Linked DNA regions of Homo sapiens: regions 1, 2 and 4 are each linked to region 3. Evidence: fine-mapped expression QTL. A gene starts in region 3. Each other region holds a variant in brackets. All regions are shown on one strand. Distances are between the middles of the regions.

What was found. PIP is the estimated chance that this variant, and not a neighbour inherited with it, causes the effect.
Region 1: its variant is the best candidate, but not a certain one, in a credible set for the expression of CPM in whole blood (TOPMed, PIP 0.82).
Region 2: its variant is the best candidate, but not a certain one, in a credible set for the expression of CPM in monocytes after LPS (Fairfax 2014, PIP 0.89).
Region 4: its variant is the best candidate, but not a certain one, in a credible set for the expression of CPM in monocytes after LPS (Fairfax 2014, PIP 0.58).

Annotation. Positions count from the first base shown.
Region 1 is chr12:69,004,789-69,009,940 of GRCh38, forward strand. TODL (transcript overexpressed in dedifferentiated liposarcoma) reads left to right here and starts at 2,871. Exons shown (of 3, transcript XR_001749099.2): 1 at 2,871-2,948. RefSeq lists an enhancer at 2,655-3,348. The variant G/A (reference allele first, on the strand shown) is at 2,819.
Region 2 is chr12:68,979,286-68,984,437 of GRCh38, forward strand. No RefSeq gene overlaps it. Among named protein-coding and RNA genes, the nearest start is that of TODL, 26 kb to the right of the region's middle. The variant G/A (reference allele first, on the strand shown) is at 2,871.
Region 3 is chr12:68,930,932-68,936,083 of GRCh38, forward strand. It overlaps CPM (carboxypeptidase M), which reads right to left and starts at 2,240. Exons shown (of 9, transcript NM_198320.5): 1 at 2,211-2,240; 2 at 1,747-1,909. The coding sequence starts at 1,906. RefSeq lists silencers at 2,120-2,479, 2,510-2,619.
Region 4 is chr12:68,963,145-68,968,296 of GRCh38, forward strand. It overlaps a transcript of CPM not described here. Among named protein-coding and RNA genes, the nearest start is that of CPM, 33 kb to the left of the region's middle. The variant A/G (reference allele first, on the strand shown) is at 3,105.

The DNA of each region.
Region 1 (5,152 bases), 74 kb after region 3:
AGTGATCTGCCTGCCTCGGCCTCCCAAAGTGCTGGGATTACAGGCGTGAAACACCACACCCAACTGATGTTAGTATGTTTTTTATGAAGTAAGAGTCAGTATATATTTGATATGTGCCAGGTGCCCTTTGTCCTCTCATAAAACTTACTACCATCCAAGCTGGAGAGGCACAGGGCTCATGTTGACCCATGAAAGCAGATTGTTATATTTTCAAAAATTTTGCAAGCTCTTATTAAACACTGTTCCAGTCCTTACAACTATACAAAAATGATAGCTAGCATTGTTGAAAACAACATGGCTGAAGCTGAAAGAGGTTTCAATTTAGGGACTAGAATTCGTACAAGGGTGGGAAATAGTTTAACAGCAGATGACATCAGATCAAATGGCAATACTTTTATGGAGAAAAGAGTTAGCAGATAGGGATGCAGCTCCATTTGTCAAATCATGGTTGAACGGCAGCCACAGTTGCAGTCACAGACACAAGAGTTTGGCAAAAATCAACAAAGGCATTCAGTGAGATTCAACTGACCACATGGAATTTACAATAAAGGGTATTGTATAGTTGATTATTACTTGGAAGTTGTGTGCTACATATATTTACTAACATTCCTTTTCTCCCACAGCCAGTTGTTAAACACTTACCCCACTAGGGAGACAGACCATTAACAAATACACGGATAATAAATACGGTAAATTCAGGTGGTAGTAAGAGTTGTGAAGGAATTTGAGCAGAGTGATGTGGCCGAGAGTGACTGATGGGTGGGAAAGTCTTATGACACGGGCAGGGTTGTGAATGGGGAGAGTTAGCCAGCACATGAGGATCAGGGAGGTTATAGGTAGAAGGAAGAGCAAGCCCAAAGGCCATAAGGGAGGAAAAAATTTGCACGTTGCTATCATTGCTATTGTTAGCAGAATCTGCACTTGAGACCCCAGATCCAAGGATTCCACTCATCCCTTTCTTTCCCAGTCTGTAGCTGGGCAGTTGCTCAGGGTCACGATCTATTTGGCCCTGAAAGAAACACCTGGGGTTCCTGACTTCCTCCACAACGTTTCAGACACTATCAGAGTTCTGTATGGTTTAGATTATAAATGTTCTATGTATTCCTTTCTTGTTTCTCTTCTTTGGTGGAATTTGAAGCCATGGAACCTATATTTTTCCATTTTCCTTGTTCCTAAACTATCTTTCTTACCCAGGTCTAAACTAGATTCCATTGGATGTCTGAGGTCCACCTCCAAATTTTCTCCCATGGTAGAGTTGTGTAACCCAAAAATAAAATTCTAAGCCCTCCAACCCTCTGAATGGACTCCTCCTCTCGGCAAGGGCATCCCAAAGTTAACCTGAAAAAACAAGTTCAGGCCATTATGGAAAGTGGGAGCCAGACATGCCTCATTATACCCTCTTCCTTTTTGGAATTACTGACAGAACAGACTCTTTAAGTCTGATAAGAAACATTTACAAGCTCTCTGAAGCCTGCTACCTGGAGGCTTCATCTGCATGATAAATCTTTGGTGTCCACAACCCCTTATCATAACCCAGACATTCCTTCCGTCCTTTCTATTGATAATTACTCTTTCAACTAATTGCCCAGAAAATCTTTAAATCCTCCTATGACCTGGAAGCAGCCACCCCATCTCCAGGTGCTTCCAGTTGTCCCACCTTTCTAGACTGAATGAATGTACATTTTACATGGGATGATTGATGTCTTGCCTTATGTCTCCCTAAAATGTATAAAACCAAGTTGTGGCTCAACCACCTTGGGCACATCAGGACCTCCTGCGTCAGGAGGTCACAGGAGGCTGTATCATGGGTGCATCCTTAACCTTAGCCAAAAAAATCTCTAAGTTCTTTGAGATCTGTCGCAGATACTTTTGGTTTACGGTTGTGATTCCTCCAAGTGCCTCATTGCTAGGCTCATTTAATGATGTGGTTGGGGCTAGCAATTCTTTTTTTCAGTTTGGCTTTGGAAATTTACAGCTCCTAAAGTCAAACCAAAGTTTTGGGGCAGGTGTTTTGATTTTATATACCTTCAGTAATTGCACTTACTTGGTCCTTGTTGGTTCCTGAAATTCAGATCCTGCCTAGGCTCTGGGGAAATGCTCAAAGGATGTTTCTTTGTCATATAACAACAACACAGTCAACTCTTAAATGTCATGACTGTAATTCATTCCTTAATGATGGTGCAAATGAGTTAAATCTTTCATATTGTAGACTTTTAACTTTGCAAACATCCTTTAAAAAGCCATTACAGGGATATGCTCACTCCAACAGAGAAGTGCTTTGGCTGCAGCATGAAATAGCTAATTCATAATTTAAAGTATGATGCCTCTCCCTTTTCCCCTTTTTAGATAGTTTATAAAAAGGGAAACTTTCTCCTGTGTGTGCTGAGGGGCTGGATTTTTCACTGGCTGTTTGCCTTCCGAGCACTTTCTTCATGGCCAGCACTTATGAGCAAGCCTGGTGTGTTTAACTTAGCTGGTGAAATGATCAACGGTAAACGTCAGTTGCTGACATTAGAGCCAGCTGCTTGAAGTGTCAGCGCAGCTGCTTTGTGAGATGAGAACAAGATCTTACTGCTGCTCCTTGTTCCGTGGCGAGGCAACAAGAAAATGCCCATTATGAACCAAGGGGCTCATAACACATTCATTTTTACTCCTTTTACCACCAGCTCAGATTTCTATAGAGTGAAACCTAAGTTCAGAAATCTGGAAGCAAATGCAAAAAAAATGTACCCCTGCTTCTGAAACTGTGCTCTATTACTCACGGATTTCAGGATCTGCTTTTTCTTTTTTTTGATTGTATGACTCACATAGATTTTAA[G/A]GAACCACCCATGAGGGCCCCTATGCATTTGGATAATTAAGATTCTTCCTGGGTGAAGAGCAACAGTCCCTTCTTTCTGAATGACTGAAGATTTAAGAGCTCTGCATGCCCTGAACTACACTGTCCTGCGGTGAGGCTTTGTTTTCCCTTGTTCTGGTCCTGCTGGACCTAGAGATTGGGGTGCGAAGGTGCTTAGGGTGCAACAAAGGAAAGAATTGAGCAGGCCTGGACAATGTCACCTCACCAAAGCGGGGGCAGAAGGCAGCAGAGGAAAGGTGCTTAGTGCAAGCCTAAGGATCTTGTAAGCCTTTGTAGCCCGGACTCTGACCAGCCTGTTGTTTCTTTAACATCCTGCATTCAAGTATTTGATGCAAATATGATTGCCTCTAGGCAAGAGAATATAAATATTTGCCGAATGTATAATTGAATGGAAAAAATAGCTGTGTAAGTGAGGACAGCGATGATCTCTTCTTGCCTTCTTCTCTTTGTCCTGCTCCCTCTCCTTTCTTCCTTGGTTTTCAAAGAATTCAAAACAAAACAAAACAAAACAAAACAAAATGTAGAAACCTGTTTTGTCCTGGGAGTGTAGTTTCACCAGCTCCCTGCTGTTCCAGTCTATCCAAGCTGTCAATCAAAGCAAACAACAGAAGTTGGCTAGCATTCAAAGGAAAAATGTGTTTTATTACACATTTTGACATATGTTGGATGATTTAGTAAGATCATGGTGCCTTGTCTCATTTTCGAAGACTTCCTGAGTTCATTTTTTTTTCTTTTTTTCATAACTTTCATTGAACTTTTAATGGCCTTTTTGTATTTTTCTCATGGAGGATGCTTCATTAATAGAGGGACTATGTCCAGTAGGAAAATATAAAGTGGTTTTTTATTTTTAGAGAAAACAGGTACTAATATGAAATGGATGAAGTGCCTTCCAAGCCCATGGTTTCCAGGCTGTGTACCAAGGTGCCCTGGGGTGCCACTGGATATTTTAGAATTGTAAGGAAAGCACAGTGATACCTGACACCCATTCAGGTACCACACAAACTATTAGCTCACGGTAGTTGACAGCGTCACCATTAGATTGTGCAACATTTCAACATTTCTTTTGATTATGTCATATTACTTGTGAAGCTGGGTCTACTGTGCCTATCCTGTGGCACTACGTGCAGAAACATGAAACAGGAAATGAGGGTGGTGGTGTCCAGTCTAATTCCAAGGCTTGAGAAGTGAGAAAAGAGGCTGGGCATGGAGGCTTACTCCAGTAATCCTAGCATTTTGGGAGATCGTGGCAGGAAGATTGCTTGAACCTGGGAATCTGGGACCAGCCTGGGAAACACAGAGGAAGACCTTGTCTCTACAAAAATAAAAATAAAAATTAGCTGAGTGTAGTGGTGTACAGTGGTAGTCCCGGCTACTCTGGAGGCTGAGGTGGGAGGATGGCTTGAGCCCAGGAGTTGGAGGCTGCAGTGGGCTATAATCATGCCACTGCATTTCAGCAGAGCAAGACCCTGTTTCAAAACAAAACAAAGAAATGAGAGAGAGAGAAAAAGAGAGAGAGAAAGAGAGAGGAAAGAAGAAGATAAAGAAGCAGAAGGAGAAGAAGAAGAAGAGGAAGAAGAAGAAGAATAAGAAGCAGCAGCAGCTAAGAGAAGAGAAGAGGCGAGAAGAACTTTTATCTGAGGAATCCAAATCCTTTTAAATTACCAAGCCCAGAGAGACATTAAAATCAAACAGCAATCACATTCTATCGCCTCCTTTGAGCTACATATTCATCTCTTGAAATTGCTTGCTATTGCTACAAGTATCTATAAATTAACCTAATAATGTTGCATCAGACAATACAACCCATACCCTATAGCTGAACAATGTATAGCCTATCACTAATCAATGTTATTTCTGTAAACTAATGAGAATTCCTGATAAATAACTTTGTATCAGCTTACTCCCTGTTCCTTTTTTTTTTTTTTTTTTTTTGCCTTTAAAAACCTGCTTATTAACAAAGTCCAAAGGAAGCTTGTATTCCAGGTTCCTAGGGTCTGAATCTCTGGGGCAGCTGTCCTCACTTTCACTCAAGTAAACTCTTTAAATTATATTTTGTGCCTCAGCGTCTTCCTTTTAGTTTGACAGAAGTTATGCAGTGTTCAACAGGAAAATGCATCCCATTAATAGGTAACTTTAATTATTTAAGAATGAAATAAAATTATTTTATTTCAATTTTTATATACAGTTTTTCAGACTAAGTTGTTAGGTCATAAATATTTATCAAGTTGCTTAGACCTAATTAACAAATAGCTCTGGTAGGCGTTTCTTTTGGTTTAGGGACGGGGCACTGAAAAA
Region 2 (5,152 bases), 48 kb after region 3:
AACTCCTGAACTCAGATGATACACCCGCCTCGGCCTCCCAAAGTGCTGGGATTACAGGCGTGAGCCACCACCCCCGACCAATTTGCTTGAAGAGACAGGATCTCACTATGTTGTCCAGGATGGTCTCAAACTCCTGGGCTCAAAGGATCCTCCCACCTCAGCCTCCCTAATAACTGGGATTACAAGTGTGAGCCACTGTGCCTGGCAAAAGTGAGTTTGAAATGTGTGGAGTCAGAAGCTATCTGTGGGGCATCTTTTCAAAGCTTATAGCTCATATATGAAAGAAGCTTAATTGAGGGTTTCCCAATCTTGATAATCATCCTCAAAATTCACATAATTTTACCAAATAACAAGTTGTGAAGCTGAAAAACTTTTGAGAAGTATTAACAACAAATGGTTTACCACTTTAAGGGAAAGACCAAAATGTCTTTCTAGTCTCTTAATAAAAAGCAAATACCAAGCCATTATCATATAAGGAGGTAATCAAAATATATATGGCCAAATAATGTAGGAAAAGGTATTGTAGAGGTATGTCAGAAAGTTTTATTAACTTTAATTAAATATTAATTATTTTTTCTGGATTTTGTGATGCTTATTTCTTAGCTTTTATTTGTAATTCTTTGTCTTCTCATTTTGAATAAATTTTCATGTTTGTGCTAGCTTTGTATTCATGATTTCACAGTCTTTTACTTTAAAAAGGCACCTCCAAATTGTAAGTCTCAAAATCTATAAAATCTGAATCTGCCCATTTCATGGCCACGCAGTCTAAAGCAACGGTACAGTCCCTCTGCTGTCGCTGAATTTCCATTCTCTCCTAGAAGTTCCCACTGCCTGACTTTTCCCCTTATGAAGAGATGTAGCTGATGTTGTTGAGACTCTGCGCATGACCCATAACCAGCCCGTGTGCCCCACTCCTGGGCACGCAGCAGCTAACACCTTACACCCATGGCCTTCTTCTAAGAAACGCTCTTGCCTAAGGAGCCTCTTTACCTGAGAGGCTACTACAACACCCTGGGGTGGCCAATGACTGACAGAGACGGGTACAAAAGCTCCCCACTGTTGCTTTCAAGGACAACTCTGAAGGTGTGATTTGCACTTCAGGGCCCCCAGGGATCAGGCCCAGGTTAGATTTTTCCACAGCACCCCTCTGCTTGGCTTCTTCCCCTTCCCCATCCTGATTTCTTCATCCTTTACAGGTTTTCCTGAGGAGAACATCCTCAATAAATCACATGCACCCAAATCCCCATCTCAGTCCCTGACAGTGTGTTTATCTTCTTACTGTCTGTCCCCACTTCTCAAGAGGATATAAACTAAGAGAGCAGTGACTTGACCCAGCTCCCTCATTGCTGTATTCCTATTGCCTGGAGCTTGGCGTGAAGTAACTACACCATGTAATGAGATGAATAAACGTTGAATGAGGATATGAATTCCAGTCACTTTGCACATCTTTCCTCTAAATCTCGTGACAACCAAGAGGGAGATATTGCTTCTTTTCATATTACAAGGTAACACCCCTAGGCAGTACTCTGGCTGCTGCTGAGCCCTGTTGTCCTCTGTTGGCACCATCACCTGACCTCCAGGGAAGGGGTCCAGCATTTCCCTGCATGGTCCTGACAAAGATGTGGATGTGGACCCCTCCCTGATCCAATGCAGGACAGACTGTACTGATGATGAAAGGACACGTGGCACAGAGCATGATTCAGACGCACTGCCGAGTCAGGACCCAACCCGAGACCCTTTCCTTGGCACGGTCCCAGGTTCTCTTACAGGTAATCGCCCAGGGACAAGGAAAGCCACCCTCCACCAACAGAAATGCTTCCGGCAATTGCATGACCCTGAGACTGCCAAGCATTGGCCAGATCTAGAGCAAAGAAAATATTCCTCCTACCACTACCAGATAAGCTCCTTCCAGAGTCTCTGTTCCCTACTCTCAAACTGACCTCTTCCCAATGACAAGGGCTCATTCCCTTCAGCAGACACCCCCATCATCATGGGACCATTGGATATTGGATATATGAAGTTATTAGGATAACCTCATAATATCTGGCAGTATATTTCCAGAGTTTATGCTATTCGCTCTTAAGTAACTCTCTCTACCCCAACAAGTAATCTGTGAGTAGCTACCCCAAGTTCTGGGCAGAGTTTTTCAGTTTCTTCTCAGAAAAGTCTTATAAAATTTTGTAGTGTGCTTTCATCTGTGACCATCTTCTTACAGAAGAGTAAACCAAAATGCATGCATTGAATATTTTATAGCTTGGGTATGAGAATAAGATGAGCCCACATGAGACAATTACCAGTACAAAATTAAACTGTAAATAAGACAGGGAGTTAGAATCTACCTAGAAGGCTATAGTGCTTTTGTTGGAGCTTCCAAAAGGAGAGGGTGAGATCAGCTCTGGTTAGCTCGAGTTTGTGGGAAGTCACAGACATGATGCATTTCCTTTTGGCACTAGTTTGTTTGGCAGGGACACGTCACCTAAGGTGATAAGGATGAGCTAAAGGGGCTGGCTCTCCACCAACCACTGCAAGGGATGGAAGTGGAGGAGCTGCTTGGCATCTCCCTGTTGTTCCATTATCTCTTCCTCAACATCCGATTCTCCTTCCGGTCATCCTCCTTCCTATCCTTCCCTCTTTCTCCTCCACTTTCCATTCATCTGACCTCTCTTTTCTTCCCTTTTCCTTTTGAATTTAAGGTTTGGTCAGTTTGAGACATACACTCTACTTGTGAGGCACAGCAATTTGTGGAGGAGAAAGGGCCCCTGAGTGAAACAGACCTGGGTACCAACTCAGATTTGTGCCTTACAGGCAAGTTATATAACCTCTCATAGCTCTGTGCCATCCATAGAAGTGAGGACACAAAGCTTTCTCAA[G/A]TTATTTGAAGGAGTAAACAAGATGATTTATGTAAAGTGCCTGGCACATAGATAGCTCTCAGTAGATGTTTATTTTTCCTTACTTCCTTCCTCCTTATTTATTTTTTAGTGCTATGTGCATATTAAATAGTAGTCATTAAATGGATGCTTATTAAATGAGTATTTGGAGTTCAATTAGTAAACTGTCAAATACTTAGAATTATTAAGATTGGGAGGGATTTAATAATTATTATTATAATACCTTGTGCTAGGCACTGGGATTAGAGAAGTCCTTGTCGTATAATATCTGACACGACCCTCCCCAAATGCATAAGGTAGGCATTATTTTTATTACCCAAGATGCAGTCTTTATTACTCAGGGTCCACATTTCATTTTACAAATTAAGAAGCTGAGGCTTAGAGGGGCCAAGTAATTTACATGAGGTCACAGAATGGAATCTTGACACCAGAACCAAACCCTTCAACTGCTAGGTTAGACTGCAGAGTCATTGAATATTTTTGATCCCCTGCAGCCCATAAGGAAGGTAGAGCCCAGCAATTGGAGCATCATTTGTTTCCTGACTGCAAAGTGAATCATCCTTCTTAAAGATAGTATAAGTAATGTGCAGTTACGCAAAATTGAAAGATTTGAGACAGAGCCATATTGTTCTCACAGGAAAGGATTAAGGGGTGGGGGGATGTGGAAAATTAGGAGCATGGGAGGAAAATGGATTAAGTGACATGTTCTAGGGCAGCCCAGAGCTGGTGGATAACAGAAAGTTCTAATGGGGAATCTTACTAGGTTGTTTGCAGTTTAAGATGAGTTAAATCAAGTTTAGCCCAAAGCTGCCTCCTTACATATATTAAGTTCAGCCTAAGGGTATCTCTGTACACGTGAACTATAACAAGTGGAAGTAGAAATAGACCATAGCCTACATTTGTGCCAATCATCAAGGTTTGGCCAATCAAATGTAGCCAATTGTTTGAACCGTATTTAAATAAGGCAAACACCGAATTGTAACCAATCCAGCTGTTTCTGTACCTCACTTCTTTTTTCTGTATGTCACTTTCCTTTTCTCTCCATAAATCTTCTTCCCCCATGTGGCTCTGCTGGAGTCTCTGAGCCTATTCTGGCTCAGGAGGCTGCCCAATTCAGGAATCGTTCATTGCTCAGTTAAACTATTTTAAATTTAATTCAGCTGAAGTTTTTCTTTTATCAGATGGTGTCAGAAGTGGGATCCGAAGTAGAGCTTCTAACATCCCCTAGGAGCACTGAGTGACCAAGTGAGGAACTCTCTGGACTGATTGTGTCCATTGATCTCTTGGAGCAGCTGGGGATTGTGGTAAGTTCTCTCTCAGATTCCAAAGCTCCACGGATTTGTGTTTTTAGCTCTCCGAGTTTCTTTGAGCAAGTTTCTGATCCAAACTGGATTTGGAAGTTGTGATGAGAAACTGGACTGAGTCCAGTAATTAGCTGGTTTGGATCCAGCTAGAGGCTTCTTACATCTGACTGGGTCAGAAGGAAACCAGTAGTAAATGGCAATATTGCAGGGGGTGTAAAATTTGGCTTTTGGAAATTCACAGGAATTTTTGTGTTCTACCCCTTTGGTTCATTTTTCTTGTGCACTTAGGTAGGAAAAAAAATCAATCACTGACTAAGTTGATCAAGGGAACCTGAAAGCAAAGCCAATATTTGAGGTAAAAATGAGATCCTTAATTTCTGAAGAATTGAGTTCCTTCTGGCTTATACACGCACAAGTGTTAGGCCTTATAAGCAGCGAAGTCTTAAAGAAATGGCAAAATCTTACTAAAGATAACTTACAGTGGAACGTTCCAAATGAACAACACTGCACTGAAGTGTGTTAGAAAATGAGGGCTTCCAAATTAGTCTCATCTGTACTGATATGCAGAAGCTTGTAAAAAGATTTCAGTATTTTTATATGAAGACTTTATGAAAGGCAAATAAAAAGCTTAAGTGACTAATTGATTAAAAAAATTAAATCTGCTAACCTTTTGGCTTAGTTACTATTCTAATCCAAAGGAAGTAACTGCAGCACCAATTGGCTGACTTTGGGTAAGTAGTGGAGTACATTTTACCTGTATTGGGTTAGAGAATTGGGTTAGAGGCCCTCCCCTCAGTAAAGTCCCTCTTGGTTAAAAATGGATTTGGCACAATGGGCTGTTAACTGCTATTCTCTTTGGATTAATCTGTCTTGTACTTTTTGCTGATGACAATGGGTGACAGGATTAGGCATGTACAGGATCACGGGACCTGGGGAACCTTCCCCAAAGGGGGAAACTTG
Region 3 (5,152 bases):
GTTGTGTTCTATATATTTTTAATTAATATAATTAGTATTCCTAGATCTTTTTAAATTGCTCTACTCTAGCCCTAGGGAAAAATGATTTCAGAAGGCTGAATACGTATGCTGATTCAAGATATGATTTCTCACACACCCAACCTCTATAATTTTGGATTATAGAGCAATATAGAGTAATTCTGGCACCATCTCTTTGGCAATGCTGTTTAAAAACAAAGTTACTATTACACACAGCCCAGGATATTGACTTCGCATTGCACATAAATACATTTATATAATACTTTTTCTTTAATATAGAAGCCATAGCCTTGATTTTTTTGAAAAATGATGAAGAATATGGTAATTATGAGACTCTCAATTGACTCAAAAGTTCAGAGCTAAAATCAAGGTAGAGTTTGAACACACCTTACAAAAAGTTGAGATCCAAATTGCATAAAATTTATGAAACTTTTGATTTAAGGACTAAGTTTTCTGGTAACCTCTTTGGGAACATCAGGATAATAAAAGATGATTAAGTAATAATGGTATCTCGGCCGGGCACGGTGGCTCATACCTGTAATCCTAGCACTTTGGGAGGCCGAAGCAGGAGGATCACAAGGTCAGGAGTTTGAGACCAGCCTGGCCAATATGGTGAAACCCCATCTCTACTAAAAATACAAAAAAATTAGCCAGCTGTGGTGGCGCATTCCTGTAATCCCAGCTACTCGGGAGACTGAGGCAGGAGAATTGCTTGAACTCAGGAAGCCGGAGGTTGCAGTGAGCCGAGATCACGCCACTGCACTCCAGCCTGGGCAACAGAGCGAGACTCTGACCAAAAAAAAAAAAAAAAAAAAAAGAAAGAAAGAAAGAAAGAAAGAAAGATGAAATAACGATATCTGATCAAATTATTTGCCTTGGCCGGATGGGTGCCAGTCCTGGCTATAAAATTCACCATCTGGGAGACCTTGAACAAATTATTTAATTTATCTGATTCAAACTTGCTGTCTATAAAAATGAAAATAACTTTATGTAGTTTCTAACTTAGAACAATAAATTATTAATGATAAATATGAAAATGCTGGGAAGAGTTTCAATCACTACTAATATATATTCATTATCTAGCATTGTCTTCTTCAAATGGATACATTTTAAAAACAGCCTTTAATCATAGAACCACTTTTTTGCATAACTTTAAGCCATAGGGCTAATTATACACGACACAAATCTAACCAACAGAACTGTACTACTTAGATTAAAAGAAACTTGCAGAAATGATAGTTTTGCATAACTTTAAATAAAAGGCTAACTACAGATGACACAGAAATCTTACCAACAAAACTGCATTATTTCAGTTTAAAAGAGACATGAAGAAATGACATTAACAGTCCAAGTCATATATAAAGAAGCCCACACAAAGGGGAACTGAAACGGATAAACGGACTTACTTGGGAGTTTATCTTGAAAAGGAACTAAAACATACATCCCAAATAACCAATGTCTGCAAGATCCAAAAAGACAGAAGAACTCCAATAATGGAAAGGACTCAGTGACACTGAATTACAATGGACAAGTCCAGTAAAATTCAGTTCTTCCTACTATTCCTCCCAACAAAAGCAGAAAACAACCAACACGCACGGTACCGGTTGACTTGTTCTGTGCCACTCAGAGTAGGTGCGTGGAAGAGCAGACAGGAAGCTGGGGCATATTTAATGAATACTGAAAGGGAGGACTGAGGGTTTGGCAAAGTGTTCACGAGACGGACCCTACCTTTCACAGATTTCCCAATACTGTGTAAGTGAGTGACAGAACTGTAGTTTTGGGCAACAGTCTTCAAAAACGCTTCCATCCCTTCCTGGCGGTGGTAGTTGAAATCCAGCGCAGCTACCAAAGGCAGCAACAGCCCTAGCCAGAGGCACGGGAAGTCCATGTTCTAGAGATGAATAAAAATAAGAAGAACCTGAGAACACATGAGGGCAGGCGGGGGCATCACCAGCTACGTCTCGGTACTCCGGTCTCAGGGTCTCCCGACACTGACGCTCCCTGCCTCCTAAGGAGGCAAAAGCTGGAAGCAACACCTTCGGGAGTGAGCCGTGCAACCAGAGACCGGGAGCACGGGCAGCCTCGGTGCCCTCGACCCAGCCGCCCGCGCCTCCCTCTCCTCCTCCTCCTGGCGCCTCCGCCGTCCGGCAGCTGCCACAGCTGCGCCCGGCCCCGCGCACCCCCAGCCTCACCAGGTCCCAGGCGCGCACCTCTACCCACCCGCGGCCGCCCGGCGGGGCCGGGTGTTATAGCCCGGTCAGAGGGCGGGCGCGCCCGGGCCCCGCCCCCGGACGTCCCTCCGGCCCACTCCGGAGCCGCGCGGGTGCCTCCCGGGCGGGGCCTCAGCCGCCTTCGCACCTAGGAGAGACGGCGCCCGCGCGGTGCGCCCTTTCGTGGCGCGGCTGCTGGTGCCCGCGGCCGGGCGGCTGAGCTGGGCGGAGGGCTGCGGGCATGGAGTCGCCGCTCGCGGACAGTCTTTGCTGGAGCCCCAGGTCAGAAGTGTGTCCTCGCCTCGGCCACGGCTGTAGCCTGGGCAGCCACAGGGCGCTCCACCGAGGGACACTCTCTGTCGCAGACTGCAGCCGCTTGGGAGACGTTTAGGGCTCGGCGGGTTTCCTGCGGTTGGCGGTGCCGGGGCCCACCTGGAGCCGGGACGCATGCGGAGTCCTGAGTGCCCTGAGCCCCGCGCGGGCTCCTGCGGGACGGGCGGCGTCGGCCCCGGCAGGGCGAGCCAAGCTCCCAGCAGTGCCAAGCTGCCCAGCGAGGCTAAGCAATCACGGGGCTTCGAGAAAGAACGCGCGCGTGTGTGGAAGTTTTAAATGCCACGAAGTGCAGAGTGCAGGACATTTTCCAACAAGTTTACATAGTGGGTGGGATTTGTGTAAATTAGAATTGAATTTAAAACTGGAAGTCACATCGAAGAAGGCAGGACCACTGTTGTAAATCCGATGCTTCCTCCACCTGCACCTGAGTCTTAGGCCAATTACAGGTCTCTCGTCCTAAAACGTCCTAAAATGCTCCTTTCTGGAAGGATGGCATGGTCTCTGCACGAGAGAGAACGAAGGCTTCACTCAAACCTGAGAGGTGGTTTGTGGCACGGGCCAACCCCCTCTACCTCTCTAAAAGATTCATTCTCATTCATTCTCTCTCTCTCCCCTCCCCCTCTCCCCTTCCCTCTCTCCCCCTTTCTCCCACTCTCTCCCGGATTGTAAGTAACCGTGTCAGGGTATTGGGGGCCCGTGTCAAGGTCCGCAGAATATAAAAAGTTTGAAAACCACTGATTTGAGATAACATTCCACTTTTACAGACTAAAAATACGGATGCAAGCCCACGACTAATTGAATAGAATTTTTCTCGTGGAGGCCCAAGAAAGTGTATTTTTAGAGAGGACCTTGAATGAATCTAATGTGCCTTCAAGAGCTGAGAACCGTTAGATTCCCTGCCCCTTCTTTCTTACAGATATAGATACTTTTCCTAGAATTGCGCACTCAGGACTCCCTGAGACTTCCAGTGATTCTGCCGCAGCATAGAAGAGTGGTTTAAGAACTGAGGCGCTCTGCCCTTGCGATAGTTTGCTGAGAATGATGGTTTCCAGCTTCATCCATGTCCGTACAAAGGACATGAACTCATCCTTTTTTATGGCTGCATAGTATTCCGTGGTGTATATGTGCCACAGTTGTGCACATGTGCCCTAGAACTTAAAGTATATATAAAGAAAAAAAAAGAACTGAGGCGCTCACGGGATGAGTGCCAATTCTTGCTCTGACACTCAGTGGCTGTGTCGACTCTGTGCCTTATTTTCTGGTGTGTAAAGTGGAAGTCTTAATTGTACCTACCTAAATAAGGTTGGCAGGCACATTGTAAGAACTGTGCGAAGCGTTTATTACATAAATAAACCAGCTTAATTCGTAACTCTTTAAAGGGAATTTTCCAAGAGTTGGAATTTTTTTTTTAATTTTTTATTTCTTTCTTTATTTTTTGAGATGGAGTCTCAATTCTGTTGCCCAGTCTGGAGTGCAATGGCATGATCTCGGCTCACTGCAACCTCCTCTCAGGTTCAAGCAATTCTCCTGCCTCAGCCTACCGAGTAGCTCGGATTACAGGCACCTGCCACCAGGCCCGGCTAATTTTTGTATTTTTAGTAGAGACGGGGTTTCACCATGTTGGCCAGGCTGGTCTGGAACTCCCGACCTCGGGCGATCTGCCTGCCTCGGCCTCCCAGATCGCTGGGATTACAGGCGTGAGCCACCGTGCCTGGCCATCTTTTTTTTTTTCTTAAAGAGAAGTTGTTTTATTGTTTGTTTGTTTGTTTGTTTGTTTGTTTGTTTTGAGATACAGTCTCACTCTGTTGCCCAGGCTTGAGTGCAGTGGTGCAATCTCAGCTCACTGCAGCCTCTGCCTTCCAGGTTCAAGCGATTCTTGTGTTTCAGCCTCTAACGTACCTGGGATTACAGGCACGCATCGCCACACCTACGTAACTTTTGTATTTTTACACCACACATGCCTAACTTCTGCATTTTTAATAGAGACCAGGTTTCACCATGTTGGCCAGGCTAGTCTTGAACTCCTGGCCTCAAGTGATCCTTCTGCCTCAGCCTCCCAAAGTGCTGGGATTACATGAGTGAGCCACCTTGCCTGGCCTAAGAGTTGGAAGTCTTAGTATGACATTGTAGAGTCTTTGAGTAGGTTTTTTTTTTTTTAATTGTGCAGTAGTCACTATGCTAAATGTTATTTCCACTGGAAGGGTTGAAGACGTTTCCCTTTCATTGTTGTTCATTGACTAAGAGGTCTGAGGAGGGGGACTGGAGCTTGAGAAGATTAAATTTAGGCAAAGTTACTCTAGGAATGGGAAAGGGAACTGGGTGGGAACAAAGTGAAGGCTTGCTGATGTACCTTAGAAATCCTATCTTTTTAAGAGAAGTACGTGGACACTATCTGATTTCCTGCAGGGTGCTGTGGCTGGAGACTGGAAGAAATGGTGGCTTCATCAATACTGGAATGGAGATTGCCAGGATTGTTGTTCTGGAAAAACAGAGATGAGCTATAGTTGAAATTGCTGCCATTGGGGTTCACACTAGGTAGGAAGGGAGGCAACTTCAGGAAGGAGTCAGAGAATGGAGGTAGGGGGTACAGA
Region 4 (5,152 bases), 32 kb after region 3:
TCATAAGGAAATGATCGGACCTACCTTGTTTGATTGTAGGTCATAAGACCCCCATTCCAGAAAGGGTCCTGTCCCATACGCAGAAGGAAGAAATGCTGCTCAGAGAGGCCAAGAAGAATCTAGACAGACAGGCCTTGCTGGGTTTCCTCACTCCATCTGTTAAAGTTACATCATACCCTTTTGTCCAGTCATATTTCTAAACAGCTCTACATACTTTTTGAACCTAAGCATAAAAATGTGCACTTTCCTCTGTCTTCATTCTGAAGGTTCCCATGTACACATTAAATGCATTTGTATGTTATTTCTCCTACTAGTCTGCCTTTTGTGAGTTGATTTTTCAGTGAAACTTCATAGGGAGAAGGGGAACTTTTCCCTTGGCCCCTAGATAACTAATCTCCAGAACATTCTCGCCTTGCAAAACTGAACTTCTATGGCTATTACACAACTTCTCATTTCCCCATCCCCCTAGTGCCTGACAACCACCATTCTACTTTCTGTCCCTATAAATTTGACTATTTTAGACACTCCCACCAGTGGAATTTTATAGTATTCATCTTATTGTAACTGGCTTATTTCACTTAGCATAATGTCCACAAGGTTCATGCATAGTATAGCATATGTCAGAATTTCCATCCTTTGAAATGCTAAGTAATAATAGTTCATGGTATGCATATACCACTGTGGGGGAAGAAAAAAATGTTTTCCTTTACCTTCTTAGGTTCAGTATCTGGGGCCCTGCAAATTAGACTGACAAAAGACAGATTAGCAGGAGGAAAGGTTTATCATGTATATATACAGGGGCCTTCCTAGAAAAGTGAAGGGGCAGAGAAGCAGTTAGACCTAAGAGGTGACACAGCATTTTGACAAACAGTGATACATTTGATACATTGCAGAGATTGACAAGACAAAGGAAAAGGGGGATTCCTAATGGTGGTAACTTGTGGGAAGGAAATATATAGGGAAATAAATAGAAGAAAAGGGTGGTTTAGTAAGGTTTGTTATATACATTCCTCTCCAGGTCTTTGGGCTGAAAAGAATCTAGAGTCATCTCCAGTGATGAAGAGTCCCGATGATTAATGAAACCACCTTTGCGAAGATTATGACAGCAAGAGGAGTCTAACATGACCAACTCCATCTTGCTTCTAGCCTCACAGACTGGCTGTCTTCACGCATTCCTGGGCATAGGAAGCTAACCATGGAAGGGATTTAGTTTCTAGTTTAATGTGGAAGCAAGGATGACAATCCCTCCCTAAAACTGATCCCCTCCTTGTTCAGGAGCTGAAACCACCTTTGTAAAACTGATGAAAGACCGCAAGATTAGAACTATGGGAGTGGCCTAAATTCTGCTAAAATATAGTTTCTATAATCCCTTACTACTCAGGAGTCATGTGGCCAGAGGTCACAAGATTTGTGACTTCCCCTATTGCTCCTATAGATAACATTATGATTGTAGAACTTAAGATTGATCTTTTGAGATGTTTTTCAGACTTTTGCATTTTGGCCACTGACCGACGCTACTGACTCATGACTCAGCCGGTCCCATGGCCCCCACCCAGAGGCAGACTCAGTGCATGAGGACCATCTTCCACAACCCTATGATTGTATCCTCAGTCAGTCAGCAACACGTATTCCCTAGTCCCCTACCCACCAAGGTATCCTTAAGAAACCCTAACCTCCAAGCCTTCAGGAAGACTGATTTGAGTAATAACTCCATCTTCCATGTGGCCAGCCTAGTGTTAATTAAACTCTTTCTTTACTGCAATACCACAATCTCAGTAAATTGGATTTGTCTGTGCAGAGGGTAGACCAAATCCATCAGGTGATTGCATTAAGAGTTGTTCTCTTCCTTGGCAAGGGAGAGGACACCTTTATAAACGCATAACCTAAAAATAAAATCCTAAGCCCACACTGACTGAACAGATCCTTCTTGGCCATGGAGACACAAAAAACCTTAAGAACTGAATTTCCAACCATGACAGCAAGTGAGGTTGAACACACTTTTTTATACTCCCTCCCTTCTGGAGTTTAGGCACAACTGACCAGTATTAATGTTAAAATAGAGATCATAAGACTGACAAAACAGACTCTTTGTGACAGTAAGATACCAAATTGTAAACAGGACCTATGACCATGCCAGACAAGGGTTAAGTCACATCCCTACAGGTCACTCTGACCCAGTGTATTGGGTAATGAACCTCCTTAACTTAAACATTCCTTTCTACCGACTTCAAATCTTTAGACAAAGCTTAATTTTTTCAACCAATTTCCAACTAAAGAATCCCCAAAACCCACCTATGACTTGTAAGTGCTCTTCTCCCCACCTCAGGATGTCCTGCCTTTTTGGGCTGAACCGATATTGTCTTCCATAAAGTGATTTATGTCTTTAGCTGTAATTCCTATCTCCTTGAAATGTATACAACCAAACTATAACCCGACTGCTTTGGACACACTTTCTCTGATTTTTTTTTTTTTTTTTTTGACATAGTCTCCCTCTGTTGCCCAGGCTGGAGTGCTGTGGAATGATCTCGGCTCACTGCAGCCTCTACCTCCGGGGTTCAAGTGATTCTCATGCCTCAGCCTCCCGAGTAGCTGGGACTACAGGTGCCCACCACCATGCCCAACTAATTTTTGCATTTTTAGTATAGACAGTGTTTCACCATGTTTGCCAGGCTGGTCTTGAACTCCTCACCTCAAGTGATCCACCTGCTTTGGCCTCCCAAAGTGCTGAGATTACAGGTGTGAGCCACTGTGCCTGGCCATGAGCGCACTTTCTCAAGACCACTTAAGGTTGTTTTTCTCCAGGTCATGGCCCTTCATGTTGGCTCTGAAAAATCTCTTTAAACTGTTTTGCAGACTTTGGTTTTTCCATTAAAAATGGAAAGTCATGTCCTGCTTTTAGCCAGATAGGGGGAGGGCAGAGAGTTTTTGTTTGTTTGTTTGTTTGTTTTTTGTTTTCTGTCTGCTGTTTCTTGATTGTCTTCAGCTCAAAATAATTCTTATGCCAAAGTGGCATATTTTGGGGTGTCATATTCTGGTTCCCTTCACCACATTTTGTTTATCCATTCATCCATTGATGGACACTTGGGTTGTTAGGCTTTTTAAAA[A/G]TACTCCCAAAATGTCTTATCAAGACATTAATTTGAAACAAGTGCAGTGCTCTCTCTAAAAGGAATTCTACTGAATAAAATTTCTCCATTGTTACCAACAGCAGACTGTGTTTTGGCTGCCAGGTTAAAAAAGCAAGTTAAACCAGCATTAAGTAAATAATCGACCATTATTTCAGAAGGGTGTCTTCATCTATCTGAGAGTTCCAGAATCCCCATCTGCAAATGCTGGCTAAATAGTGATCTTCACTTGTCATTGCAACTCATTTGCAACTTGGTAGCTTGGAACCAGGAGAATTAGTGGAAGGTCCAGCAAAGAAGGAATTGATCTTGAAGGACAGTTTTCTTGCTGATATGACTTCATGGATCAATGAAGTTCATCAAATGAAATCTTTGTATACATATGCTAGAGTTAATGGAGTCCATAAACTTTTCATAAACATACTGAATATGCTGTGTTATGGAACTCCAGTGTTCCTGTGAGTTCCTTTGCTTCCTTTTCCCTTTACCTCATTTTCTTTAATCAGAAATACATGTGACTTCAGTCATATGTGAGGCTTCTGCTTGCCTTGTGTAAAGGAAATAAGTAAGGCCTATCCTACATAAGACAGCTCCTGTCCTAAATATTAATAAGAAGAGAAGGTGTAGTTCATCTGGAGTAGAAGGATGAAGAAGAAAGAGAGGGGATGTCTGAAGCCAGAGATCCATGTGGAGCATATTATAGACTTAGGTAAGTGAACAGCCATATCTTAATATTTGAGTTGATGAATGGGGCCTAACCATTATCAGCCAGACTGTTGAAGGGGACTAGCAGAAGTTGGAAGCATAGATAGAAAGAGAAGACAGGACAAATAATCAGCTTTTTGCTTCTATGTCTTGAACTGAGCTAACTTGGACATAAATTTGCTCCTGAGTCTGAAAGGCCATGTAGAAAAGTTAATAATAAGTCTGCTGAAGCTAATGACTAATATTCTGACTTCTGCTGCTTCCCTGGGTGAGTACGGGGTGGTGCAGTAAGGTGCAGCGTCATGTAGACTGTCACTGTGATAGGAAACAGAGCAACATTAATATCTACTGGTATTTAAGAGCTTCTCCGAAAGACTTAGAACTTTTTTCAGTTGAAGCTATGAATACTTTCACCTCATAACAGGTGTCCTTAGCTGAAGTCCTGGACCTTAAGTAGTGAAAGACTTGAGTAGACTTTTAGTTCAGATGGGACCTCTTCAAAAGAGATCTTAGGACCAGGGCTGAGCAAAGGTTGAGGCTGTGCAGAAACATCCCCAGGCAAATTGTCAAGTAAATGGGTTTCTTTTTTATTTTTATTTTTTTGAGACAAGGTTTCTGTCACCCAGGCTGGAGTGCAGTGGCATGATCATGGCTCAATGTAGCTTTGACCTCCGTGGGCTCAGGTGATCCTTCCGCCTCAGCCTTCCTGAATAGCTGGGTCTACAGGCACTCACCACCATGCCCGGCTAATTTTTGTATTTTTTGTAAAGATGGAGTTTTGCCTTATTGCCCAGGCTGGTCTTGAACTTCTGGGCTCAAGCAATCTGCCCATCTTAGTTTCCCAAAATGCTGGGATTACAGGTGTGAGCTCTGTGCCCAGCCCTAGGTTTCTTTTCTAATTCCTCTGACCTCCTCAGAGAAGGTTTGGAAACCTGGGTTATGGGGGTGGGGAGAATGAGCTACCCTCCTCAAATTCACAAATATTTCCTTAAACACAGATAATACAAATTTTTCATAATGCCATCAGAAATATAATTAGTATACTTGTCAAAGTGCTACAAGAATGTTGTACAAGTGTAATATGTCAAACATTTAAACCCAAACTCTTCTCCCCACATTGGGAACCCAGATTCAGACTTTAGGTCAATGCTTAGCTTAACATTTAATGTCTTATCATGGGCCTCTTATTTAGTATGCCCTAAAAAGCACATCAAAAAGAGAACAAATGTTTATGAAGGCAGGTGGAGCTCTTTTCTTTTAATGGATCATAAAGCAATGAGCTTCCCTGGGTTTCATTGGCGTTAGCTAATGTGACAGGGTGTAGA